5 separate regions of the Homo sapiens genome follow, and regions 2, 3, 4 and 5 are each reported to be linked to region 1. The links are microRNA targets in miRTarBase. Many come from high-throughput screens and were not tested one by one. Region 1 holds a microRNA gene; each other region holds the end of a gene's coding sequence.

Region 1 (6,204 bases):
CCCAACACACACACACACACACACACACACACACCCTCGCCTGAGTGTTCCAGGCCTTTAAATAAGGCATACCCCAACCTCTATTTCCTGTTCTGTCTCTTCCTTGGGAAAAACACTTGTTTAACGTGACTTTCACCTTGGCGACTTTCTTACACGACTCCTTTTTCTGTGCTAATGCTTTTCTTATATACTGTAACCCTGTCCTTGTACCAACCCATTTAACCATTGCTTTTTGGATTATCTGAAGTGAATGGCTGATCCCAGATCATTTTCTCTTAGTTGACCTCACCTATTTCAAGCCACTCTTCCTATGTCTGGAGGGTGTTCTCAGAGAACAAGCTGTTTTTATCAACCTTTCCAAAGCATAATCAAGATCACCCTGTTTCTTTTCTGAAAGACTTTGTGTTAAAAAAAAAAAAGATCACTCTGTTCCTTTTAAAAAAAGTCAACTAAGATTTAAAAACCAAATATGCAGGATTTAAAATTACTCCATGCTTGTTGCTTTTTATTAGTATGAAGATTTGACTGAATACTAGTCTTCATATTTAACCTTTTCCCAAACTGGAGATATGAGGTGTTGGGTTCCCTTTATTCTATAAGCAGGGGTGCCCCTCATTATTATTTCAACAATTAGAATCTGGGATTTATCTGTCCTGGAATTCATGTAAGAGCTGAGCCTCCAAAACCTGCTCCGTGGACTAGAAAAGCATGAGACGGTCATTGGAAAGAGGATGACCTTTTTGATATACCTAAGATTCAGTGCTTCTCAATGTTTTAATGACTCACGGGGGCGTCTGTGAACTGTCTGTAGAAGACGACCTTTCAAACTAATCCCCCCACGGGAGCCCTACCTAGCTCACGGCTGCAGGCTTCATGTAGCCCCGCGATGGCTGGCAAACAGTCACAAGCTGTTGTGTTCCCCTTTTGCTCTGATGGAAGGGTATAAACTAGCCGAAATACTTTTTAATTTCGATTTCTGAAATATCTACTTATACTCTTTGTCTTTAGTGCTTCCCCACCCTTTTCATTATCACTCCTTACAGGAGCTTTTATGGACCTTTTAATCCTAATCGACCACCCCACCAAATTTTAATACCGCAGATATAATATGTATCTGTTTATGTATTATCTGTCTGTTCCTGCTTTACACATAAAAAGATTAAGAATTTTTTTGTCCCTAAGAACAAATTTTCACAAAGAATGCAAGTTATAAACAATGAAAGATATACAGTATTAAAACATTGTTTCAAATTTGAAGAATAAGTGGAGGAAAGAAAAATATATTTTAGAACTTAGATATGTAAATTATTTCCAAAATAGTTTAACACTCAAACTAGTCAGCTGTATCAAAATCAATTCTCCCTGAAGTAGGCACTGTTCCTAGCTAGAGGCAAGTACTCATTTTGCATGGTATTGTGAGTCCTGTCTTCTTTTAACACAAGGGCAGAGGAGTATGCAGGGTGGGTAGCTGTTAACTTCAAAGGAGCTAAATGGCATGAGAAATCTTCTGGGAATAGGGAGACAGTGGACACATGAGAATTGAGCTTTTCCAGGCCTTTCAGAAAGTTCTTGTGCACAGAGGATAGCCTCATCCTTCTGAGGAGACATCATCAAATCTCAGATTGAACCTTCTAATTTTCCTGCTATTTGTAGACAAAGAAGAATGTCTGTCTCCCAGAGTGACAGCTAACATTTAGAGAGTATATACTATAGCCAGGGTCATTCTAAGTGTTTTACATGCCTCATCTCATTTAGTCTTCACAGCCCTATTATTATTAGTCCTATTTAACAGATAAGGAGACTGACACACAGAGAGATGAAGTGATTTCAAGATCACACTGGTAGTCCTGTTAATTGTTGGTGCCAGGATTCAACCATAGGCAGTCCGAAGCCAGAGACCCGCACAACAGTTAACAGCCTCAGGAATTCACACAATTCTGATACATCTAGAGTCTGGTATGGGAGACAAGGTGGACTGTCACTCTAGACTCAATGTGGCAGGATACACAAAAGATCTTAGGTAAAAAGTACACTGGTTGACTGGCTCCTAGCATTAACTAGGAAAGCTTGGCTGTTGATAACTGTATTCCTGATCCATCACTGTCCCCTGGTGGTTTTCCTGGGAAACTCACAGACCAAAGAAATCCAAGGGTCTAGTGAAATTAGTGGGATGAAAAGAACTGGATCAAATCAATCACTTGCTCACAAGCACTTTGTATGAATGTTCCTTCCTTTTGCCCTAACAATGGATGACCTAAGGTCCATGTTATTCAACTCAATTGTGAATGGGGTTGTAATCCCTGTACCACCTAAGAGCTGACTGCTAGTATACTGACTCAAAATAGGTGGCAAAATATATGCCCATGATTATACTTGTACTTTAAGATAGGAAACTCCAAGATTTAATTAATTTAGCCATTACTTGCTACAACTTCACATTTCATTTTTAAGCTTCTAGGCTTTCTTCACAGCAGTGTTCCCAAAAGATCACCATGCCTCATCCTAACCTGTAATCCCTAACCCCTACCTGCCCTCCCCACCAAATTCAGTTCCTTCAACCTTTCAGGCGTTATTATTCAACTAGGTGATTTTTACTTTCACTGCTTCTTTCGAGCATGCTTGGTGGTATAAGATTGTGTCAAATAAAGCAAAACAAGGCCATTTTATATAAAATAGATATGGTCTTACTGGACAAAAAGGAGGAAAAAGAGTTTCTGAAAAAGTCATGTCTTCAGTGCACTCTGGGACCACGGAACTGGGGGCCTGCCTTCCATGGTTCTAGCAGAATGTACCCTGAAAGGAGCAGGAGAAGACCACAGCCCACATGCAGAAGACAAGACAAACGAGTTTTTATTTATTCAAGAGTAAATTTCCAGGTGTAGAAAGAGGCCACAAGTTAATGTTGTTAAAAAAAAAATTAAACATCTGCTAACCAAGTGCTGCATTTAATGAAACCACCTAAGACAGAAAAAGAGACATGAGACAACCACTGAGAACCAGCCACCCGGAGCTCAGTTTCTGCTACAGAGCACCTCCTCTTCAACGAATCACTGGATACCATTGGAGAGCAAGTCACTGTTGTTGAAGCAGCAGAGCTGGAGGTGCTGTCAAGAGTCTCAGCAGACTCATTGGCCAGATGCACCGAACTCAATGAGGCACTTAGAGATGAGAAACCTGTGGATGTAATGTCCCAGCTCAGTGGAAGTGGTTTGGAACCTTTCCTCCACTGTCAGGGCAATAACCCTAGGGCAAGTTATCAGACATTCCTAAGCAACCTCCTTCAGGTCCTGTCTGGCTGGACCTTCCTTACTCCGACAGAAAAAAACCAATGAAGACAGTTAAATCAATCTCTACAGTCTCACTCTCTCTTCTTTCCTTCAACCTTTTTTTTTTTTAACAAAGGATATTACAAAGGCAACAGTTCTGAGCTCTCAGGAAATAGGGTCTCAGATGCTTTTAGAGGTTGAGAGGCATAAAACAGCAGTCTTGAAATTCCTTTTATCTTATGGCACTGATTTAGTTTCAGTCTGATTTCTCCTCCACTTTCTTCCCTCCACCCATGCCCTCTCACCCCCAGATAGACTTACGATCTGTACTGGGATTTCCCAGCAGAAGAGACTTTGGTTTTTGTCATCCTGAAGTTGCCACTCCACCACCAGTTTTATCTGGAGAAAGAGAAAAATAATTGAGAAAAATGAAAATAGGACCTGACTTCTATCCATAATTGGTTTAACTATGAATCCTAGATGTACAGTAGCAAACTTCCTAACTCCTCATACTTTTTTTCTTAAATCATGAGGGCTGCTTAGCATGTGGGCACAGCTTACAGCCTTAAGAGAGTGAACAAAGTTATACTTGTGATTTGATGCTAGCAGCACCACATACTAACTTGGTTAATTTATCAAATGTAATTTCTAAAGCATTCTCTTCTCTCTTAGATCAATGGCATATAAATGAAGTGATACGGTTTGGTTATTTGTCCCTTTGAAATTTCATGTTGACATGTGACCTCCAATGTTGGAGGTGGGCCTGGTGGGAAGTATTGGATCATGGAGGAAGATCCCTCATGAACGGCTTAGCACCGTCCCCTTGGTGATGAGTGAGTTCTCACTGACTTCACATGAGATCTGGCTGTTTAAAAGAGTCTGGGGCCTCCCCCTTCTCTTTCTTGCTTTAGTGCTGGCCATGTGACACGCTGGCTCCCCTTTGCCTTCTGTCCTAACAGTAAGCTTCCTGAAGCCTCACCAGAAGCAGGTGGTGGCACTATGCTTCAGGTACAGCTTGCTGAACCGTGAGCTGATCAAACCTCTTTTCAAGTTACCCAGTCTTAGGTATTCCTTTACAACAAGGCAAATGGACTAACACATGAAGGCTTACATGAATAATTTCACATTTAAGCAATTTCTCATGTATTTGGCAATCTGATCCAGCTTTTTCCCAATGTAACCATGAAGAGCAGAGAGTAAAAAAAATTTAGATTCTTAGGTATAAGGAAACGTTCTTGTTAGCTAGAAATGGAAATGTCAAAGCACAAAAGATGGCCTAGAGAAGTCTGTAGCTGTATGAATAATTTCAAGGATGACAACCTTTTGTAGCAATATACTTTCAGTTAACGCCCTTAAACTGCTTTCTAATAATGTACTTCATCAGAAATCCCTGCCTTGACTTGTTACACTCATATCACGTGAGTGGTCCCTTCCAATTCTTGATAACTCACTGACACTCTGCAGGTCCTTTCTTATGTGGACATTAGCTTACTTGTCACTAGTTACTACCTCTCTTTTGTACTCTAATGTTTCTTCACAATGGAACATGTGAGTGGCACTGATATTCAGGTTCTTGAAACTTGCCTTGTGAGTTTTTCCAGACTAGTATACATTAACTACTGCTTCATTTAGTGCTTAAGCAGTTTGAGCTATTTTTCAAATTAAATGTAACTCATTTAACAGACAATAACTACCATACATTAAGTACCTACTACGTATCAGGCTCTGACTAGTCACTGCATACGTAACTGAGGTTCAGACATGCCCATGGTTATGTGGATATTCATCTACTAATCTGTCCCTGACCTCTAAGGTCTCCAACAGCCCTTAAGCACAGACATCCTATATTTGAGTCTCTTTAGAATGTTCTTTAATTACTTACCTTTCCTAGAAAATAAATGGCCAGATATTGCTCCTGAGTTCTACTTGATTTCAAGAAATGCGGCTCTTTTTCTTCATGGAAAAAGGCCATCCCTCTATTTCCTCCATTCTTATCAAGATACATATCTTTAATACAGGTCCACTGCAGCAGGATCTACCTTATGAGTGCTTGGTAGAAAAAGAGGTAGGTGCAGCAGGGATGGGTCAGAGGTGAAGGTGGGGATTGGAGGGCAGAAAGAAGGCTGGAAAAAGCTACCTCTCTGCCATGGAGCTAACAAACTACTGCTCTCTTGTTTTGTTAAGAGATTAATGGAGAAACCAGGATTTTCTGATGACAATGTTAAGACAACTTGGATCTTTAATTATTTGGTACCTGGCTAAAATCTTTTAACATTGCACAGGCTTTGGAGTTATAAGACCCAGCTCAAAACCTGGGCTCCACTGCTTCTTAGTGGAGTGGACTCTGTTCATATTGCATAACTTCAGAGGCTCAAATTTCTTCAGCTGTAAAATAGAGATAATATCACCTCTACATAGGATGGTCATGAGATCCAAGTGAAATATTGTATATAAAAATGGCATCAGCCGTTGCTGTGCAGAGCCGAAGCAGGAGCCGCAGCTGGGAGGAGGGAGGAGGGAGGAGGGAGGAGGGAGGAGGAGGTGGAGGAGGTGCCAGACTGGGGGAATCATCAGTATTTAAACAGACCACATCACGGGTGAGCTAGTGGTCCTTGGTTCAGGAGGTGTTGGGCAGTCTGCTCTGATGGTTCAGTTTGTTCAGGGAATTTTTGTTGAAAAATATGACCCAACGATAGAAGATTCCTACAGAAAGCAAGTTGAAGTCAACTGCCAACAGTGTATGCTTAAAATCCTAGATACTGCAGGCACAGGGCAATTTACAGCAATGAGGGATTTGTATATGAAGAATGGCCAAGGTTTTGCACTAGTATATTCAGTCCACGTTTGACTTACAGGACCTGAGGGAACAGATTTTACTGGTTAAGGACACAGAAGATGTTCCAATGATTTTGGTTGGCAATAAATGTGACCTGGAAGA
Region 2 (6,204 bases), not on the chromosome of region 1:
GCCAAGCCTGGGCACCATGAACAGCAGCAGAAGGCAGATAGGTTCCTTGGTGAAAGGGGGCGGGTCCCCGGTGAGGCCCCACCTTCAGGCCAGCAAGGGTCTGAAGGCTGGGGGCCAGGCTGCCAGTCCCACAGACTGGAGTGGGAACTTGTGGTGCCTTTTCTGGGCCTGCCCATGGCTGCCCATGGGCCAATCGGTGCACACTTCCTCCCCTCTGAGGCCCATAAAAGCCCTGGGTTCAGCCAGAGTTGAGCAGATGACAGGATGACCAGCTGCAGTGAGGAGCTACCCTCTCTGCTGAGAGCTTCAGAGACCTGCAGAGATGTCAGGACTACCAGCTGCAGAGAGGAGCTACCCTCTCCAGGGCCTCCTCTCTGCTGAGAGCTGCAGAGATGACAGGATGACCTGCCTGCAGAGGAGCTACCCACTGTGGGTCCCCTCTGAGCTGTTCTAACACTCAATAAAGCCCCTCTTTGTCTTGCTCACCCTCCACTTGTCTGCATACTTCATTCTTCCTGGATGCAGGACAAGAACTTGGGCAAAAGTGTCACTGACCACAGAGGTTTCCGGCCAGAAAAGTGACACCCCAAAGATGCCGTAACAATGGCGCTGGCTAGACTTGGAACTCATATGGTCTGGCTCCGGCGACCATGCTGTGACCTCCATGTTATGCTGCTTTTGGGGAAGTGGAGTGGGCTCATGTTTTCTTGGAAAAGTAATTTGGCAGCTCAGTCAGGACACCAGCCTCTCTCCTGACCATGCTCTCCTTTCCCCATTTATGTGAAAGCAGTGTTAGTGATGGAGAGCCCTGTCTTCCACCCCTCCAGCAGTTGTCGCCAAGTGACCTTCCTTCTGTGGTGGGACGATGGGTCTGGTTAAGAGGTGTAGGAGAGATGAGGCTGGCAGACTAGAACTGAAGGCTGCAACAAAAGCAAGAACTGGCAATCCCCAGGCCATGTAGAGCCTACAGACTTGTTTAGCCCTCATGGAGGTAGGTTTGTTAGTTTTTATACTTGAGCCAACATTTATGAATTAGGGGGCTTCATGTTAGAATCCCCAGTCCTAACTTCCCTTGAAGAATGAGAAGATTGGCAACACTGGACCTACATTCCCCAAGACAACCCTGGGCTTCAGCTGCCTCCTTTGCACATGTCCTGCAGTTCTCAGCACTCAAATTGGAGTCTGCACTTTTCCCCAACCTGGCCTACTTCACTCTGTACAGTGATCTGCCTGATCCCTGCAGGTGGCTGGCTTTGTGAGTCCTTGTCTTGAATGGTCTACTACAGTCTACCCTTTCTTCCTGAGATTTGAGCTGACAGAGAGCTGGGCACAGGGTCAACATCTCTGGTCCCACCCCCTCCCCAAGCCACAGACTTTCCTAATGCAGCAAGCTCAACTCCACAGAACAAAGCCATGAAGGGAGGGTTATCATCAAGTCTTACCATTTATTTCTTTATGGGGTTAAACAAGAGCAGAGAGGCCTCTGCCCCACAATGCAACAAAACAGAAAGCAGTACATATACAGAGACTCTCACCGAAACACAGAGGCAGGGTAAGAGGGAGGGCAGAGACAACTGAATCATAGCTGGGTAAGGGAGGAAGGGATGGGGGACTACTAGGAAACCAGTTTGGAGACTCAGTCATAGGAACTAGTGCAAGAAAGTCCTACTCATGAAGCACAGTGTAGAAAATGGCATAAGAAAGCTGCCCGGCTCTGCTGTCTGTGATGGAGGGCAGGGGCAGCCGGAGAGGTGGTGGAAGATTAGGGTGGTGGGGTGGATGGGGGCAGTCAAATGACTTTGAGGTGGAGTGAGGTGCCCCTTTCCCCTGCCACTGGGCAAGGCCTTGGGCTGGTCTGAGCCAGGGGTCTCCTGGGCACTTGGTGAGGGGGAAGAGAGGATGGGAGTCTCCAAGGGTCCATTCCCTGGGGCCATATGGTTTCCCTTTACTTCCCAGTCCCTTTTCCCCTTCTGAGGATGCAGGAGTTAGAAGGCAGTACCTAGGGTCTCTCTGGAGCCCAAGCACCTGCCCCTTTACTTATACATAAGCATGTCTGGAAAGGAGCCAGCACCTCTTCCCCTCCCCAGCTGAAAAGAGCACTCTAGGGATGGGGTATGTGACCAGGCCCAAAGTGCTGAGGGCCAAACGGGAGTGTGTAGGCAGGGCACAGGGGTAGGGTTGGGGGATAGGCTGTAATAAATGAGAAAACTGGCAGGGAAGGACTCCCCAGTCTCATGTAATCAGTCTGGGACCTAGCCGAGGCCCATGAATGATTCCTTCTCCATTCATCCCTAAGCTGACCAAGGCCAGCTCTCCCTTCCCCATCCGCTTCTTGGTTTCACTCTCACGCAGCTCCAGGCCCGCCCTCCCATTCACTCACTAGCATCACATCCCAGGACACAGGCCCTGCTGGCACTAAAGGCTCCCTGGCCTGTCCCAGGTATACAGCTCTGGCTCCCTTTCCTGTCCATTCGTATCAGCATTCAGATGTCCCAGGCAATGTGGGATCCCCCCTACTCCCCAACCCCACACAGCAGACCAGAGCAAGGCTAATGGCTCCCAAGGGGGCTCTCAATGCCTCTTCTCTTGTCCAGTCCTCTAGCCTGACTCAACAGTTTCTCAGCCAAGATATGACAGCACATTATCTTTAGTCAAAGGGTCTTCTTGCCAGTCCCTGGACTTTCTCTTGCAAGAGGCCGGGGTGACTGGAGCAGAAGACCCTGCTACAGGGTGAAGAGGAGTATGGGTGTTTCGCAATTGGGACAGTAACCCATAGAGTCAGGGATGGAAAGGTGTGAATACTCTTTGGTAGGCTGGGGACGGGGACAGGGTGGGGATAGGGGAGGCTCATCTCTGGAGAGCTCTGGGGCAATGCCACCAGGTTCTCCTTCATGGAGGCCTGGGCTAGGACAAGATAGGGGAGTATAAGGACCTGGGCCAGGCCTGACCCACTTGGGCTTAAGTCCCTCCTCCCCATGGAGATCGGAAATGGAAATGTCTTTGGCCCCAAGGCCAAGATCTCCAGGGCAAGAGTGGCCCTTGGGAGTATGTGCACCTTCTGTAAGATATGGTCCTTCAGACAGCGGCAGTCTAACCATGTGCCTGCAGCCTTTTGTTTTGAGGCCCAGCAACTCAGTTCCTGTGCTCTTTCCCCAGAGGGCTCCTAATGCAATTCTCACTGATTTGGGGAGCAGTTCTCGAGCCTACCTCAACACTTATCGCCCATCTCCCCAAAGCCGGGTGGCAGTAGCCTATTCGGCCATGTCTTCAAGCCCTCTGTCCACATTTCTCCTCTCCTCTCCCCCTTCCGTATCTCCACTCTCTTTCACCATTCATTCTGTACCCCTTTCCTGCCCCTCATTGCCTAGGGTGGTGGGGCACAGCTTAACTGGGGCCCCGACCTAGCTGCAACTGTGTGCACCTCATCTCCCAGCCTGGTGCTTCACGTGTGATGGTCCCAGGTGGGGCAAGGTGTGCTGAAGTGGCAGGAGGGCCATTGCACTGTCTGCCGTCGCCTGTAGGGATATGGGCAGGAGGGAATTAAGGATCTTGGCAACAAAAGGAATGTGGAGTGGGGGAAAGAGCTTCTCCCCTCTGTGCCCCCCAACATTCCCTGCAGGGCCAAGGCTGGGTGAGCAGCCTCCTTCCCTGGGGTCAGGGCTTTTGGCAGGGGTGGGCATATCCAGCCCCCACTTCCTCCCTTTTTTTGCTAAGCCCCATAGATGGGAGCTTGGGAGGGGTCACTTGCTGCTCCTGCCTTTTTCTCCTGGATGAGTTTTGCAGCTCCCTGAGGCCCTCTGGCCATTCTGTTGGAGCTGCTTTTGGGGTGGGGGTAGGTTGGGGGGGATGTGTCATTCCCCCATTTCCCCCGCCCCCACCTTATCCTACACCTCCCATGGGAGGAGCCCCCTCCCCCCCAACCTGGGGGAGCTGGAGCTGATGTCAGTGTGGTGGAGGTCTGTCCTCCCTCCCTACTGTCACTCTTCCCGTGTCAGGCCCTCCTCTAGGGCAGGCAGTGTCTCCAGCCCCAATCCCCCACCACCCTGGTTGCTGGAGAAGGACACCACGGTATGGAGGAGCATGAGAACAAGGACGCAGAGCCGGATCCTGCTAGGGCTGAGGCGGGAGCCCCCAGAGACCGGCAGCAGGGCGGGCTTGTTGCTGACACGGCCTGGGGGATCATGATGGGGGTGGTAGTGATGGTACTGTTGGTGGTAGTGGTGGAAATAGGAGTGGTGGAATTGCTGCTGGTGGGTTTTGGGGGCCTCAGACTCCTTGAACTTCTTCTTCTTCGCCTCACAGGAGACCCACTGCACGTCACAGCACTTGGTTTCCAGACGCTTTGGTGAAGTATCCAGCAACCCTGCCAATGGATAAGGAAGGTGTGGTGGGGTGCTCGGGGAGCTGATAGCTATGCCTTACCTAGGGAGCAAGTTTCCAGAGCTGGGGCTGCTCAAGTAGCCTCATCTAAGGCTCCCTCCCCACAGCCCTCGACACTTGCCCTTTCTGAGCCCTTCTTTCCTGGGGACCCCAGCCAGTTTCTTTGGGATGACTCCCTGGACATGTTTTGGGCAGAGAAGGACACTCTGGTCTTTTTCCCTATTCCACTTGGCCCTATCCCAACCTGGGGACGTCACTGCCCATTCGTCCAGCCACTGGCCTTCTTCTCACCTGACTCCCCTGTTGTTATCCCTGCTCCCAACTCCTCTGACCTGATGCCTGCCCTGGGCCCCCGGCCTCCTCCCTCTTCCCCAGTGCCCTGCCTTTACCTGTACAGATAAAGCCAGGGAGCCCTCCGTACACCATTTCCTCATTGTCGGGGAGTATAAAGGGGCACCGGGTCTGCACCTCCAGGCAGTATTGCTTGCAGGGCACCCAGCGCTGGCATTCCTGCTGGGTCACGCTGAAGTATTCTGAGCACAGCCAGGCCTTGTAGACAGCCTGTGGGGAGAGGAAAGAGCATCAGCCCATGTGCCAGCCCCTTCCCACCTCAGAGGAGAGGGATGGGAGGACTTACTTGTGGTCTCTCAAGGGGGCCTCACCAACCTAACCCCAAGATCCAGGGGGTAGAGAGGAAGAAGGGCTTGGATCAAGGCCACTGCATCTTACCTAAGATCTCCGATTTCATAGCCAGTACTCCCAAGCACCCCAGTCTGCAGTCATCCAAGACTCAAAATTTGTGTGTTGGCAAAGATCACAAAATTACTGGAAGGTCAGAACTGGAAGGAGCCTTGCCAATCATTCCATGCAACCCTGTCATTTTACACTTGGTCCAAGGAAGTATCTGACTTGTCTGAGACTACCTATATATAATGAGGCAAATGTCAGTTCTGTTCAATTCAGCAAACATTTCTTTGGCTGATGGTATTGAGTTTCTAAATTCAAGAAAGAGAAAGAATAATCCTTGCTTTACCTCATTAGGGTGTTGTATGGATGAAATAATATGGCATATATGAAAATGTTTTGTAAACTCTGAAGTGTAATGTAAATGTGAGGGGTTATTTTTAATAATAAAAAAAAAACCAGGAACCTGCCTTACCAGGCAACACATGTGCCTTTGAGCTCTACTTGATCCATGCTCTGCCCTATTGGCTTCCGCTCTGGCATGGAGCAGACATCAAACACACTGCTACGTTTCATTTGGAACCTCTGCTTTGCAGTTTCACTTCATGGGTATGCTTCCTGTCCCTCATCTAGTCCACTCCTACCAGGCACTGGGTCCTAGCTAAGGAAGATTCCCTGCTCCATACTCTTTGGTTATCATCAAGCCCAGGGTTTCTTAACAGTGATACTACTGACATTATGGGTCAGATAATTCTTTGTTGTGGGGGCTGTCCTGTACACTGCAGGATACTGCACAACATCTCTGGCCTCTACCCATTACACAGTAGTAGCATTCTCTCCCCTCACCTCTTGTGAAAACCAAAAAAAAAAACAACAACAAAAAAAAACCAAAAAAAATGTCTCCAGCCATTGTCAAATGTTCCCCTGGGGTAGGGGTATTGTCTCCAGTTGTCAACCACTGATCCACTGATCTAGGTCCTTGCTCTTCAAAGTGTGGACCTGGACCAGCAGCATCACCATCACCTAGGAGCTTGTGAGAGATGCAGAATCTCAGGCTCCACCCCCGACCTGCCAAGTCAGCATCTGCATTTTAACAGATGCCCAGATGGCTCTCATGCACCTTGCCTGTTCCTGTCTTGC
Region 3 (6,204 bases), not on the chromosome of region 1:
AATAAACCAGGAAATGTGTTTCGCTGAGTTCTGTGAACCGCTCTTGCAAATTAACCCAAGGAGGGGGTCACGAGAATCCCAACTTGAAGTGGGTAGTTCACAAGTTCCAGAGGCCAGGGCTTGTAACTAATGGGAAGGGTGGAGACCATCTTATGGGACTGAGCCCTCAACCTATGGGAGGTGATGCCATCTCCAAGTAGATAGTGTCAAAACTGAATTAGAGGACACCCAGCTGGTGTCCCTGCAGAAATGATTGCTTGGTTGGTGTGTGGGGAGAATCCCTCACCCCGTTTGGTCACAGAAGTCTTTTGTGATTATTGCTGCTGAGTGAGAGAATAGTAGAAAGCACTTTGTTTTCTTCCACACAGAATCCCCATTTCACAGATGAGAAAACTGAGGCAAGAAACTCGCCCAAGGTCATGCACATTTGTAAGTGGCAAAGCCAGACTTTGAAATCAGAAAGCCTGGCTCCAGAGCCTATTAACCTCTCTATAACAGTCTATCTCCCAAATGGGATTCTAGGCAATTTTTATGCAAATTAAATTATTGAAAATGGTCACGCATGATATTTACAAAACACAAGGGAGAAAGGGAACAAGGGTGTGGGAGGCAGGGGGTGGACACAGTCTGGGCATCTTTCTGCACATATTTCTGGGGATTCTGGCCCAAGAGAGGCCAGATCCCTTAGTGGCTGGGACATCTCTGGGAAACTACCCAGCAGGGACCAGTGTGTCCCTGAGCCCAGTGGTATTTGAAGGGTTCATTCCAGGAAAAAGAGTCTTCTGGGGTGAGAAAAATCCTGGCAAGACAGTTTCATTTTCCTATGTCTTTGTCCCCTGCACACCACTGGCTTGCGCACACACACACAGACACACACACACACACACACACACACACACACACACGCTGTCTCAGCAGGGAGCACTGCTGCCTTGGGTCTGTGTTTGGCAACATGGATCCCCAGCCCAAGTGCCAGAAAGGCAGTTATAGGTGTGGCTCATGTGCGGTAACAACAGTGGTCCGTCTCCCACCAAGAACTCTCAGCCCAGGGATCCTGAACAATGGTTCTTTCCACCAAGCCTGAGACTTGGCTTTCTGTTTCCTTTGGACTCTCTGGGAAAGAAAACCCTGGGAGTTCCCATTCCTAGGTCTGAGAAAACATCTCTGTTAAAAGTTGACCAGGAGGGCACAGGGCCCTACCCTGCACAACGTGAGTCTCAGGCAGGGCACGTGAGCAGCTAGCCTGATCCCAAACAATCGCAGCTCTCAGGGCCTAAATATAGCCCATGCATCTGGCTGTTTTTATACTCAGTTGCTTGGCTCTGATCGACCAAGCTTCCTGTCTGATCACCACTGAGGAACTGAGGGCAGGGGGATGCTGCCCACCACTGCACCTGGCAAGGATATCCCGCTGCCCCTCCGCAGCTGCAAGGCACCTGCGTCCTACACACCCGGGACACATTTTGCAGGGCTGGTTCCTCCACAAATCATCTGGTCAGACTGGATAAGCTTTGGGCCTTGTTTCCATGGGACTAAGGGGCCAGATGTATCCTGGGTGAACCCTGGCTCTATTTTGCCAGTGGGAAGGTCTTTATTCCATTTTCTGGTAAACATTCCAATCCGGTAGCATATGGTTATCACCAAAGAAAAACAAGATGTTTTTGATCCCTTCTGGTAATTTGTTCTGGGCAAACAAACTTGTTTTTCCTGAGTCCAGTCCTTTTGCAATCATGCTGATTTCATCCTGTGCTGTTTATTATTCTCTCTGGTTCTTGAGGCCTGGCCTGGCAAGACAGTCCTATTTTAGGAGACAACACTCTCCCATAGCAATCTTTGCTTTATCTTCGGATACGTTTATTACCTGAGACACTAGGTAGCCAATGGGGCATATGAGAAATACCCTAAGCTCTATGTAGAAAGAAAGCGGGAGCTCCCCACAGGAACCAGTAGGAAACCACAGAGACCAGCCTCTAACGTTTGAAATTATGGGGTTGAGGTGAGCTGAATTTGCAGCTTTTCAGATTGCCTCTGAACAGCAAATATGATGTTGATTTAGAAAAAAAGGTGTGAACTCCTCAGCTGATTGCAGAAGTGTACCTTTTCCCTTTTTCTGAGCCACTTGCTAGTGATTTTTCTGACCCATAACGTTCAGAAATTAGATTGATAACACCTACTTTAAAAGTGAACTTATCCGAAAAGGCCTTAAATAATATTGTAATAACTTTCAAAAGCAAACCAACCAACCAAACAGGCTGGTACTTAGGGAGGGTCTCCTGCTCCACTGGCTTCCTGTGTGCCAGGACCTGGCCTGCTCCTAGCTGGCAGGTGCATCTTGGCCTGTGACGCCACATGCACTTCTTAGCCAACTCTGCCTTGGCCTCCACCTCACTCCCAGGAGCTTTGCCGGTTCGTTGCTCAGCTGATCTCTTGACCCTTCCAGTGTCTGGCCTTCTTCTCCTGATGAGAAGACCCCTAGACACAGGACAGACTGGCTCCATCTTTGTGCCTCCAGGGCTGAGCACAGGCCTGGCACAAGGCAGTCACTCAGTTACAGCTGAACAATGGGACAGGAGCTGTCCTCCACCTGAGATTGTAAATAATAGCTTGGGAGTACAATTACCTGGGAGCTCCTGTTTGATTTGTTTTGTACCCTCTCCTAGGCCCTGCTTCCATCCCACCTGAGCCCCTGGCCTGGAAGATTCTTGGGGCCCTCCTGATGCTAAGATTCTGTGACTCGGGGTGACTCTATTGCTCATCATCCAGGTCACCTCTAGGCTCCCACCAGTGACGCCTGCGTGTTCCATGGCAGCCTCTCCTCAGGCTCCACCCTAGTCCCCAGGGCATGCACAGAAATGAAGGAGTCATGTCGGCTCCTAGAGCAGCGAGTTGTGGCTCTTCTGCCAAACATGGCCACACATCCTTTAGGATAAGAGTTTCAGAAGTTAGAGCCGGGGGTCAGGGTGGATGCACAGAAAGCAAAAAAAAAAAAAAAAGCTTGGTTCTCACTTCTTCAGTTCAATACAGCACACCTTTATTGAGCACCTAAGGATCTATGCTGCCAGAGGAGGGCAGAGTCGACAAAACAGTGGGCAGGCCTCCCCTGCAGCTCTCTGTGTCTGTGATGATGGAGCTGGGTTGGGGAAATCCTGCTGTGACATTTGCCCTGACGCAGTTCCGCACAGCATGGTGGCTTCCAAGCTATGCTCTTGATGGGCACCCGTAAGGAGCTTCTACATGCATTAGAGATGGAGCCTCTCCTATCTTTGCAAGCCTTTGTGGTTCTTCCCTTTAAATCTGCCATCCACGGACCTCAACAGGAGAATAATTTGGTCTTCAGTTTGCTCTGTTTTAGACAAATACTTCACATGACTGATGTAAACTGTTGCATAGTTTCGCAAAGGCTTTCTCATTCATTCCTGAAATTCTCCATCAGTCACAAACACAAATTGTTCAGTATCTGGGGAATTCAAAGCCCTTTCCTCAAAACAGACATTTCTCCTTATCATTCTTCCTTCAGGGGAAGTATTGAAAGTCATTGAAAGTCATCCCCACCCACTAGAGGAGAGAAACGCAAGCCCAGAAAAGGCAAGAGGTACACAGGCATCCACGGGACAGTGGTGATGGGGCTGAGCACTGCCTTCCAGAGCTGCTGCTGGGCATTGAGCGGGCAGCACCCTCTCAATGCCATGTGGACCCTCCTCAATGTGATTGAATGACCGTGTTTCTTGCAGCAAGCTCCTTGTAAGAATCGCTTTAGGTCTCTCTGATGAAGTAAAGATTGATTTCTGCAGAGAAAGTGAGATACTTGTGGCCTTATTCCTGGTCTCACCTCTGTGTTGGGGCTGAGCTGTGCGAGGCTCACAGGGTGATATTGGAGGCTTAGAAGCCGGGGACACTGTGGCAAGGTGATGGCTGAAAGCAGGCTAGATCTCATACCTGCTGGCAGGCCCTGCTTTTCCCAGCAGCATTCCTGTGGGGCAGCGTGATATGAGGGCAGACAAGAATCTCATATGAAGGAAGAGGACAGGGGCTTGTGGACCCACAGGGGCTCTGGGACAGGCAATGTGCAAGCAGATGAAGCCTAAGCCGCAGGGGCTGGGCCAGCACTGCTCTCCAGTGCAGGAGAGGCATGGTGTGGACAGGGCTGGCCACACAGATCTGACCCAGCAAGTTCCTGGCCCCTCAGGCCTGGGTCGGCTTCCTGTGGGTGCTCATCTTGGAGCCAAGAGCTGGCTGTGGGAATCATGGTGCTCAGGCTTCAGAGAGGTAGACACACAGGCACTCGATTCGTCAGGCGGTGGCCATCAGTCAATGTGACCGGCCGGGGCCAGCAACCAGGGCTCAGTGTACACCTGCCACTGCTGGGGACTTTGGAAGAGGCAGGTGTTGGCCAGTTACTTGGCCTCCACCAGCTGCTCCAGGCGCTGCAGCATCGTCAGACGCAGGGCTTGGAACCTGGAGGGAGACATCGCCAAGAGGACTCACTGAGGCCAGACAGGGCAGGGAGGTGGGCAGCAGAGCAAGGGACCTGCAGATGGCCAGCTCAGGAGATCCCTGCAGCAGCCTCATCTCTCCTCTGCCAAGGAGGGGGAAGGCTGTGGCCTGCGCCTCATGAGGTGCAGTCAAACCAGGCTGTGGACTGCACAGAGCATCAGAGCAGAGTGTTGTCATTTCTATTGCAGACTCTAATACAGACAACAGCACACTGGAGTGGACAGGGCGGTAGAGCAGAGATCGGGAAGCCCATGTTTCAGCCCAGATTCTGCCATAACCTATGCGGCAACCTTCCTTGTGCTGGGCCTCAGCGTCCACTCTGTACGTTGAGTGGACCCACTAGTTGCCCCCCAGATCCCTTTCAGCTCTCAAATCTTACGGGGTCAGGACTGACTGCAGAATGGAAGATTCCCTCTGACTTTGGTCTCCTCTGCCTGTTTGGGGTCTGGCTGCACAGACAGGAGCCTGTGGAGGATGTGGCTTTCCACGGGTCATTCAACCAGAGGCTAACATCCATCCTTTCCCCACACACCCCAGGCCCTCTCAGTGAGCTCCTGCCCTTTCCTTCCTAGCTGCCTCCCCACCAGCCCTGGTGGGGTGCCCTCCACAAGTCCTGGACCACACTTCACTTTGCTGAGGGGGAGACGTCATTGGGACTACAGCCTGGCTAACTCATGCATCCGGACCCTGGCGTGGTGTCCCCAGGAGCTGGCAGGTGAGACCTGCTCACCTTTTCATTGAACTAGCCCTCTGCACCTGAAAACATCGGCTGAGGCTGGGAGTTCCAGCATCTGCCACTTTGGGGAAGGCTCAGAATTCCCACTAGGACAAAAGGCCCTAATCAGGCCAAGTCTGCCTCAGCATGCCTGCTCCTTGGAGCCACATCACCAGCAGAACTCAGAAGCTTGACCCAGCGCCCACTTGGGTTCCTGCCTGACTTTCCTGCCAGGTGTTCTGCAGCTCATGCCTGCGCTGGTGAGGATGCCAAGACTGGATGGGTGATCGGGGCTGTGTCCCACTGTTTTGGCAAGCTGTCACCCCAGCGTGGTGGCAATACCGAGCAGGGGGCCAGAGGGTGATGCTGGGGAGCTAGGGTTAGCAGGCCTTCCCGTACCAGGGTACTGGTGCCCATGGAGGAGAGAGACCTCCCAGCCGGCACTGGTGCTGTGCTTTGCAGACCTGCCCTGATGTTCAGGACCCATGACTGTCTGTTTAAGTGCTGCTTACTTCATGGTCAGTTTGATTATTTCTCTTTCTTCCTCTTCTTTTAATTTTTCAACAAAACTGTCCAGCACCGGCATTTCAAACTTAATGTACTGAGCGACCTAGAAAATCCAAGAACATTTTAATGTGCTTTAAATTCGAAGCCAAAAGTATGTTTTCTTTTCCTCAAGGCTTCCATAGTGGCCCATCCAGCCAACATCTTGTATCCACAGAAGGAGCTGCCGCTTTTCCCACCCCACCCCCACACTGCTGTGTTGTGTACAGATGCCAGGACGGGAGCCTATTACTATCTCAAAGGCAACTGTTATCCCTGGGAGGAAATATTAAACTGAATATTAGGAAGAGCATTCAGTACAGCAGCATTGTCACATTGGGTGCCCTCTGGGCTAGGGGGTAGGGAGGTGGGAGCACCATTGTTTCTAACAATGGAATGCAATTGCAGCAGCCTGAGGGATACGGGGTCACTAGGCCTCCTACTTGAGGTTC
Region 4 (6,204 bases), not on the chromosome of region 1:
TTGGGATTACAGGTGCGCACCATCAAGCCTGGCTAATTTTTGTATTTTTAGTAGAGACAGGGTTTCACCATGTTGCCCAGGCTAGTCTCAAACTCCTGGCCTCAAGTGGTCTGCCCGCCTCGGCCTCCCAAAGTGCCGGGATTACAGGCACGAGCCACTGCACCCAGCCAGTTTTACAGTGTTTTGGAAGACTACTATGAGCATGCCCAGAACCCCCTCCCAAAAGGAAACCCCAGTAGGGGCGAAGGAACCAAACGGAACTTGTGTATTTCATTTCCTAAGGAGATTCTGGGTGGGAGCAGAGTACTCTTCTCTATGATCCTATGGAAAAACAGTTCTTTACCTCTTCAAAATGACAGGATATTATTGACCTGGGACCATCTTTCGTAGCAAAACATTACCTTTACTGCCCTGTATTGGAGGGCCATTCTTAGTAAGTCTGTCATTCCCTGGGCTTATTTCTCACTGGAGGCATCAGTGTGGTGTAGTAGGAAAAGGCACTGAGACCATTGGACCTGGGTTCAAATGACAGCTGTGCCATTCCCAAGCCCTGTACCCATAGAAAATCCCTGACCCTTTCTGAGCCTTAGTCTCCTGATTTGTTTCACCAGGGGGTTTGTGAAGATTAAATGACAATGTAACACAGCTCCTCGGGCAGGTGACTGACCTGTGGCGTTCATTCTTCTTCCTTAAGAAATGCATAGTCCAGGCCGGGTGCAGTGGCTCACGCCTGTAATCCCAGCACTTTGGGAGGCCGAGGCGGGTGGATCACCTGAGGTCGGGAGTTCGAGACCAGCCTGACCAACATGCAGAAACCCCATCTCTACTAAAAATACAAAAAATTAGCCGCATGTAGTGGCGCATGCCTGTAATCCCAGCTGCTTGGGAGGTTGAAGCAGGAGAATTGCTTGAACCTGGGAGGCAGAGGTTGCGGTGAGCCATGATTGTGCCATTGCACTCCAGCCTGGGCAACAAGAATGAAACTCTGTCTCAAAAAAAAAAAAAAAAAGAAGAAGAAGAAGAAGAAGAAATGCACAGTCCAGGCCGGGCACAACAGTGGCTCATGCCTATAATCTCAGCACTCTGGGAGGCCAAGGTGGTTGGATCACTTGAGGCCAGGCATTCGAGACCAGCCTGGCCAACATGTTGAAACCATGTCTCTACTAAAAATACAAAAATTAGCCAGATGTGGTGGCGCATGCCTGTAGTCCCAGCTACTTGGGTGGCTGAGGCAGGAGAATTGCTTGCACCCAGGAGGTGGAGGTTGCAGTGAGCCAAGATTGCGCCACTGCACTCTAGCCTGGGCAACAGCGCAAGACTCTATCCCGAAAAAGAAAAAAAAAAGAAATGTATAGTCTGAAATGCAAAGTCTGGCTGGGTAGGCAAGCTAGTGAGCTGGTGATAAATAAACTATAGCATGGACTCTAAATGCAGTCATTAATTTAGGTCTTTAGCAGGAGGGAGAGGACTTTACCTGGGTCTTCCAAAATGAGGAAGGGGAGAGATTTTGGTAAGTAGAGCAGAATGAGGGCATTTCAGAAAAGGAAAAACATTTGTCTACCTGCTGTAAGGGGACATGAAATGGTAGATGCCTGGGACAATATGGTCACCTGCCCAAGGAGCAGGGGAGTAATAAACCAGCATGAGATACCATCATCTGAAGCAATTTGTGGCAGCATCTCTGCGGTTACCACACCATCACCTCATTACTTCACCAAGCTGTAATTTTCCATATTACTAATGGGGTTGCAAAGAATCTAGTGTTTCCTATTCAGTGAGGGCTGAAGTTGGGAAAAATAAGAAATCTTCTTGATTATTTTTCCCCTTTGGAAATTAGGGGACAAAACATGGATGATGTCATGGTTTTGGTGGATTCAGAAGAGGAAGAGGAGGAGGAGGAGGAGGAGGAGGAAGATGCTGCAGTAGGGGAACAGGAGGGAGCACGTGAGAGAGAGGAGTTGCCAAAAGAAATACCTAAGCAGGACCACATTCACAGAGTGACCGCCTTGGTGAATGGGAACATAGAACAGATGGGAAATGGATTCCAGGATCTTCAAGGTAAGCTCTTTTTCCTTAAACAAACAAACAGAAAACAAACAAAAAAAGGCGCGTTGGCTCACGCCTATAATCCCAGCACTTTGGGAGGCCAAGGTGGGAAGATCACTTAAGCCCAGAAGTTCAAGACTAGCCTGGGCAACATGGTGAGACTCTGTCTCTACGAAAAAAAAAAAAAAAAAAAAGAAAAATTAGCCGGTCATGGTGGTGTGCACCTGTGTTCCCAGCTACTTGGGAGGCTGAGGATCACTTGAGTGTAGGAAGTCCAGGCTGCAGTGAGCTATGATCACACCACTGCACTCCAGTCTGGGCAGCAGTAGGAAACCTGCCTCAGAAAAAAAAAAAAAAAAAAAAAAGCCCACAAACCTCTGAACTGCTGCGGTGAGCTTCCCAGCAGGAAATCTCTAAGGGGTGAGTTTAGTTTTTTTAAAAGGCTGGGGAAGATAGCTAAACTTTAGTCTAGAACCTGAGACTACTATCAACTACCAACATGAAAATCAAATTGACAAACACTTATCAAGGTCCTGGTCTAGGGTAGGCACAATATTGGCATTGTGGGAGAACAGAAAATAGAGACTGGTAGTGTCTGCATGCAGGGAGCTTTACAAGACCAGTTCAGGCCAGGTGCGGTGGCTCACGCCTATAATCCCAGCATTTTGGGAGGCTGAGGCAGGTGGATCATTTGAGGTCAGGAGTTTGAGACCAGCCTGGCCAACATGGTGAGACCCCCATCTCTACTAAAAATACAAAAATCAGCTGGGTGTGGTAGGTGCCTGTAATCCCAGCTACTTGGGAGACCAAGGCAGGAGAATCACTTGAACCCGGGAGACGGAGGCTGCAGTGAGCCGAGATCGTGCCACTGCACTTCAGCCTGGGTGACAGAGTGAGACTCTGTCTCAAAAAAAAAAAAAAAAAGGCCAGTTTAGGGGAACAAACTAAAACCTGCAGGGGAAATGGAAACAGGAGCAAGATTGAACCAACACACTGAGAGAGCAGTAGAGGAGCTGTTGCAGGAAGATATTTGATTAATTGCCTGATGGACAACACATTTAAAAATTATAGGCACGGTTGCTCATGCCTGTAATCCCAGCACTTTGGGAGGCCAAAGTGGGTGGATCGCTGGAGCTCAGGAGTTCGAGACTAGCCTTGGGAACATGGCAAAACGTGTCTCTACTAAGAATACAAAAAATTAGCTGGGTGTGTGGCATGTACCTGTAGCCCCAGCTACTTGGGAGGCTGAGGTGGGAGAATCACCTGAGCCTGGGAAGTTGAGGCTGCAGTGAGATGAGATCGTGCCACTGCACCAAAATTTATAGGACCTCAGAGAAAGATAAGAGCCCGGAGAGGTGTGCTGGTCAGGGGAAGCTTTATGGAAGAGGTAGACATGAAGCAAGGCGTTAAGACGGCTGAGTTGGAATAAGCAGAAAGGAGAGAGGGCGTTTCAGGTGAGGGGAGGGGCGTGAGCTGAGGACATGAAGGGTGACTGGTATCAAGCATGCCTAGAGGTTCTGAATGTAGAAAACAGGTGAAAAGGGGAAAACACACGCTGCCCTACCTTCTCCATGAGATCCCATTCTGTGGCTCACCAGGAAAGGACTAGAAATCACTGAGATGATTGATGACTGACGGTGGAAATAGAATCACACTCTGATTACAAAGCATTGGGTTTATTTCCCCCCATACAGATGACAGCAGTGAGGAGCAAAGTGACATTGTTCAAGAAGAAGACAGGCCAGTCTGAAGAAGAGGATGGTCCATGGTTGTCTTGCTCTGAAAGCTTGGAGAGCTACATTGAAGACGAGCTCTTCATTCAGCTTTGACTCCACCTGCACCCCTGGCGGGGGCTTGCACTAACAATGTTTGGGTCTCAGCAAAAAACAAAACCAAGCACACACATCTTTCCTTCCATGTATTGAAAAACATTGGTTTGATTTGCTCTAAGTTTTCCCAATGATGTTTAAAAGCTTTGAGAAGGAAAGCTGCTTTGGTGTCTGAGGTGCCACTTCTGCTGTGAATCCTGGCTTTATCCAGGTTGATCTACTGTGATAGATGCTGATTTAGAGGGAACAGAGGTCAGGGAAGCACTGGGTCTTGGTGCCTTTTGCCGCTTTTTTTTTTTTTTTTTTTTTTTTTTGAGACGGAGTCTCCCTCTATTGCCCAGGCTGGAGTGCAATGGCACGATCTTGGCTCACCACAACTTCTGCCTCCCAGGTTCAAGCGATTCTCCTGCCTCAGCCACGGCACCTTGCAAATATCAGCTCCTTGGAACAGGTGAAGTTCCAGGTACCAATGCCAATCAGAGGAAGGCAGTTTGGTTCAGGCTTTGGAGTTAGAAACACCTGAAGTTGAATCTGGGCTCTGTTGCTTCCTTCTTTCATGGGCTAGAGCACGACTCTTTACCTCTCTCTTGGCCTCAATTTCCTCACCTGTAAAATAGATGAGGAAGCTGCTCACTTATTATTGTCTCGTTCTGAAAGCTTGGAAAGCTACATCGAAGATGAGCTCTTCATTCAGCTTTGATTTGACCTGTACCCCTGGTGGGGGATTGCACTGGCAACATTTGGGTCTCAGCAAAAAAACCAAGCACACACATCTTTCCTTCCATTTATTGAAAAACATCTTTGTAAGATCCATTCATTGAAAAACATAATCCATTTATTGAAAAATATCTTTGTAAGATCACCTGCTAAATATGAAAATCTGACTTGAATTTGTACTCTTTAAAGTTGCGTATCTGCTCTAGTGGGCAGGACCTAGGGCTTAAAGGGGAACTTCCTTTCTCCATTTCTAAGAACTGGGACTCTAAAATGAGAAGCTGGTTGTCTGAAGTAACCCTGCAGGTGTGGTTGGGGAAGGTCTGTTTTCTTGGATGAAGGAACTAAACTAAGCATATCAGAGCACTGTCTTAACCAGTTTTATTTCCCTGGAGATAGAATTCTTTTAAAAAGAGTTAGGGAGCTGGTAATAGGAAGTGCCTTTCATTATAACTACATTTTGCAGAGCTTCATATTTATATACAAGCCTCCTAGGTGATACACTGTTAGCTTGCAGACTTTCCTATGCTTCATTTCTCCTGTTGCTTTCAAAGAAGGCAGGAGACACGTTTAATAACGGAGTATCTGGTGATAAGAATTGCTTGGGCAAACCAGCTCATCTGGACTCTTTCTCAGTCTTGGAAGTGGGAAGAGGAAAACTTGTTTCCTTCCTGCTTCTTAAGGATATTCTGAGGGTACACTGATCAATAACACTAAATTTGGAATGAAAATACCATGTGATGAGTTTAGCCTGCTGATGCTTCCAGTAGATCCTTGTATAGTTTCAAGATTTAAGTTTTCCGATTTCATATAAATTTCTTAAAGTCGAGGACCTTATAAGGGTGCAATGGATGTTTGCTAAATATGAAAAACTGACTTGAATTTGCACTCTTTAATGTTGCGTATCTGCTCTAGTGGGCAGGACCTAGGGCTTAAAGGGGAACTTCCTTTCTCCAATTCTAGGAACTGGGACTCTAAAATGAGAAGCTGGTTGTCTGAAGTAACCCTGCAGGTGTGGTTGGGGAAGGTCTGTTTTCTTGGATGAAGGGATTAAACTGAGCAAATCACTAGAAGTATGCCCTGTCCCCTGCTCAGAACACTGGGGAGCTCAAGAGTGGGCTGCAATGTGCACCCCTCAGGAATAGCTGTGAATTGCAGGTCTACTGGCTTTTTGCTTTTTGTCTTTTGCTGCAAGGTACCCCACGTACTTAACCATTCTCAACAGTGTAAATCAGTGTCATTTTAGAATGAGATACTCAGCTTGCTTCTAAAGTCACTGAATTACTGAGTGAGTCTCTCCTTTAGAGTCTTCGGCAACCAAATTCCAGAATTGAAGAGTCTACTACTCAGAGGCAACAAGATTAAAAAAAGAAAACACAAAAACTGTTGAGGTGAAAAAAAAAAAAAACCCTAGCTAGGAACACAGAGAATGTTTTGTAGGATCACTGGGATATTTTCCACAACTTCCTCTTCTCTAGCACACACATCTGTTGATAGGAAATATTTGAGGGTTTTTCCACTACCAAATGGGAGCTTCATGGTCCTGGTGTCAAACACTATAAACCTTTGACCAGCTGAGCTGTGACTGCTGTCACATATCTGAGTCCTGTGTGCA
Region 5 (3,000 bases), not on the chromosome of region 1:
TTGGGGTTGCACCGGGACTATCCACAGATGTTTCACATTGATCTAGCTGTTCCAGTGCAACCCTTACTCCCAGTTATACAAGTTCTCTTTAAAATAAGTTTTGGATCTCATGATCCAATGTATTTTAGAATGTTTCTTTGTTATAACTTTTTACAACATGATTATGATGACATATTGTTAGATATTTCTATTGTTCCTGGAGGCTAATTATTATTTTCTGGTTTTTTCTCTGTTTTTTCTTTATAGTAACAAACTTTTTTTTTTCTCTTTACAGTGCCATTGATAATAGTAAACTCAATTGCAATTGTGTTACTTTTATTATTTGGATGAATATCAGTGGAGAAAATGGAGACTCAGAAGAGGACATGCCAGTAGAAGTTATTACTTTGGTCATTATTGGAATATTTATATCTTAGCTGGCTGACCTTGCACTTGTCAAAAATGTAAAGCTGAAAATAAAACCAGGGTTTCTATTTATCTGTTTTTTTTTTTAATGTTGCACTTGTAGTTTCATTACAAAAGATCAGATCATGAAAGGCAGTAACTCTCCAGGACTGGAATATCTGATTGCTCAGTGTTAATAGTAGTTCATGCTGTGGTGAGATTGTTAAAAGGGTGCAAGACTGTTGCTTCTCTTTTTTTAGATATTTTTCTATCTCTCACTTCTCAGGGATGAAATTCTTTTTCAAAGTTTTGAAGTTCCTTGCAACTTAGCCATGATGTGAGTGGTTATCCCTAGATAAAATTAAAAGGATTTTTAAAAAGTAATTACTGCACATAAAATGATAAATAGGTAATTTGAATAATTTTATTTTAAGCTCCTTGGTTAATTATTTTGTCTATTGTCTCAGCTATAAATTCAAATTTATACATACTATTGAGTATTAATATTCTCTGATTTCAGGGAGAATTCTGTCAGTCACATGATGATTATGTTTTTGTTTAACATTCTTTCCATGCACTTGTTATTTTATTAATTTGCCTGAATGATGAGACCAGACCAGTGTCTACAGATTTTCATTGTCAGAAAAATCTATAAGTCTGCCCTTTTTACAATGATGATTTAAAAAAAACAACAGCGTAAATATTAGCCCACAAGAGCAGTCCTAAACAATCACAATTACACTGTACTACCCAAGAAGACTGTTTATTGTGAAGCATTTACCTTTCAAAAAATCATTACATTTCTATTTCTTGGTGGAGCAGCACATTGTGGAGTGTGATTCTTAATTCTTCATTGAGTTTGTCAATAGGACATTGATGCTGGATAGGTTGTCTTTTGTTTTTATGTCTCAGACCATCTTGTGAGATTGTTTGCCTATCTCATAATACAGTTTTATGCAGAAAGGTTGAAACTATGTAAATGGTTTTTATGGAAATTATCAGTTACAATATTTTAAAGGTGTAGAATGGCATCTTTGTTTATAGGAGAACATTTGTAAATAAAGTTAAATTTCTAAGTCAAGCACTTGTTTTTGTACCTTAGTATAAACCTGTCAGTGTTAACTGCATTAATCTCCATTTTGGGTGAACACCTCTTATTATATGTTCTTTGCTGTAAAATTGCCGAGTATAGAGTTAATGAAAGTAAATATTTACATGTATTTTTTTTTCTTCAGTGAATTAACTGAATTGCTGACATACATCCAGAAGACTCATGAGCACCTTTTATTTCATGACTTCAGTTACTTCTAAAACTATGGAGCAGGTATTAAGTACCTTTTGGCCTTTCCTAAGTTAGAGATCAGTGATCTTTGGACTATAGGCTTGCAGCTAGTCCAAGGAAAGTACCAAGGATTCTTAGTTGATTACTTGGCTCATGTGAATGACTAATTTGGTACTTAGAGGCCGTGTTCTTTTAGCCTTACAAAGAACTGATGCCTGAGTTCAAGTTTGAGCTACTGAAAAGATTCAAAAGAAGCAGTTACTTGAGGGCAGGCCCATTTCCCCATATGGTATGAGCAGTACAAAATTTTTTAAAATGAAAGAAAAGAGAGACCTTGATCTGATGTTATTTTTCATATAAGACATTACAGCATACCTTCATCTTAATTCAGTGTTGGGATTTTGTCCAAATATTCCATCAGGGAGCAGTCACAGAAGGGCCAGGATCAAAGTATTCTGTAGCCAAGTAGTTCTGAGGAAAGTGAAGCACTGAACTGAACATCAAAATATGTCATATCTGGAGGCCACTTCATAATTCCAGTTTGTGGCTGAAGAGGGGTCTGTAAGCTTTCACTGGTCAGCCCTGGTTTCCCCAGAGCAGTTGTGATTCAGTAAACAGAGTGTGTTATTTTAGTAGACAGTAACTTAAGTGCCTGTTGGCCTGCCCATGTCCTCCCCTTTATCTATTACCAGGATTAACAATTTGTGATGATTCTGGACTCCAAATACCGATGATGTTTATAGTCCTTATGTATTCTGGCCCTGTGTTTGCATGTCTCTGAACTGTGCGAAGGTTCTTGGCTCTAGTCTGTAGATATTAACCAAATTCATCGCTAATCAAGTACAGTGGTTTTCAAACTTTTATAGTTAACAGCAGAACCAGATTTTCAAAGGAATTCTGACACAGAACTGTAACATTCCCGTATCTAAACCAGATGAGAGTAGGTCCATTTATTTGTTTTTAGTTGAAGTAGAGCTGGGATTCAAAGGCTCACTATTCAGCCTCCACTGCACTCTTGTCAGGCTTCCCAAGGCATTTCCATAAAACCCTAAATTTTCAAAAATATAGCTAAAAAGTATCTTATAAAAATCCCTGCTTTAGCCATAAAAAAGAATTAGATAATACCTTCTGTGGGAACATGGATGGAGCTGGAAGCCATCATCCTTAACAAACTAATGTAGGAACAGAAAACCAAATACCACATGTTATTACTTATAAGTGGGAGCTAAATGATAAGACCTCATGGACATAAGGAGGGGGACAACAGACACTGGGGGCTATTTGAGGGTGGAGGGTGAGAAAGAGTGCCAGAAAAATTACTGGGTACTAGGCTT

The links. The annotated mature microRNA hsa-miR-4709-5p reads ACAACAGUGACUUGCUCUCCAA and lies in region 1 at 3,061-3,082, opposite strand. An mRNA with a match to its seed (bases 2 to 7 or 8) in the 3' UTR can be bound and repressed. Matches are read on the target gene's strand: a 7mer-m8 pairs with bases 2 to 8, a 7mer-A1 pairs with bases 2 to 7 and ends in A, and an 8mer does both.
Region 2: the mRNA of NALF2 is a reported target of hsa-miR-4709-5p. Seed matches in the 3' UTR shown: 8mer at 2,609-2,616.
Region 3: miRTarBase lists RASSF4 as a target of hsa-miR-4709-5p. Seed matches in the 3' UTR shown: 7mer-A1 at 3,311-3,317.
Region 4: miRTarBase lists VSIG10 as a target of hsa-miR-4709-5p. Seed matches in the 3' UTR shown: 8mer at 5,972-5,979 and 7mer-A1 at 6,077-6,083.
Region 5: the mRNA of IER3IP1 is a reported target of hsa-miR-4709-5p. Seed matches in the 3' UTR shown: 7mer-m8 at 623-629.

Annotation. Positions count from the first base shown.
Region 1 is chr14:74,477,115-74,483,318 of GRCh38, forward strand. It overlaps MIR4709 (microRNA 4709), which reads right to left and starts at 3,090; the gene lies at 3,019-3,090. NPC2 (NPC intracellular cholesterol transporter 2) reads right to left here. Exons shown (of 5, transcript NM_006432.5): 4 at 3,588-3,665; 5 at 2,826-3,174. The coding sequence ends at 3,160. It also overlaps a transcript of SYNDIG1L not described here and the pseudogene RAP1AP.
Region 2 is chrX:69,527,730-69,533,933 of GRCh38, reverse strand. NALF2 (NALCN channel auxiliary factor 2) reads right to left here. Exons shown (of 3, transcript NM_015686.3): 2 at 4,770-4,941; 3 at 1,426-4,363. The coding sequence ends at 3,978. Among named protein-coding and RNA genes, the nearest start is that of NALF2, 27 kb to the right of the region's middle.
Region 3 is chr10:44,991,520-44,997,723 of GRCh38, reverse strand. RASSF4 (Ras association domain family member 4) reads right to left here. Exons shown (of 11, transcript NM_032023.4): 10 at 5,722-5,819; 11 at 1,833-4,455. The coding sequence ends at 4,395. It overlaps LOC124902530, which reads right to left and starts at 3,688. Exons shown (of 3, transcript XM_047426129.1): 1 at 3,553-3,688; 2 at 2,783-2,919. The coding sequence starts at 3,688. It overlaps ZNF22-AS1 (ZNF22 antisense RNA 1), which reads left to right. Exons shown (of 4, transcript NR_126421.2): 4 at 3,518-3,792. RefSeq lists enhancers at 5,000-5,499, 5,500-6,001, 6,031-6,204.
Region 4 is chr12:118,064,231-118,070,434 of GRCh38, reverse strand. It overlaps VSIG10 (V-set and immunoglobulin domain containing 10), which reads left to right. Exons shown (of 9, transcript NM_019086.6): 8 at 1,838-2,058; 9 at 3,741-6,204. The coding sequence ends at 3,796. The region is part of intron 1 of LOC124903030 (a long non-coding RNA gene); the gene reads right to left. Among named protein-coding and RNA genes, the nearest start is that of WSB2, 6.2 kb to the right of the region's middle.
Region 5 is chr18:47,153,507-47,156,506 of GRCh38, reverse strand. It overlaps IER3IP1 (immediate early response 3 interacting protein 1), which reads left to right. Exons shown (of 3, transcript NM_016097.5): 3 at 275-3,000. The coding sequence ends at 330. Among named protein-coding and RNA genes, the nearest start is that of HDHD2, 4.5 kb to the right of the region's middle.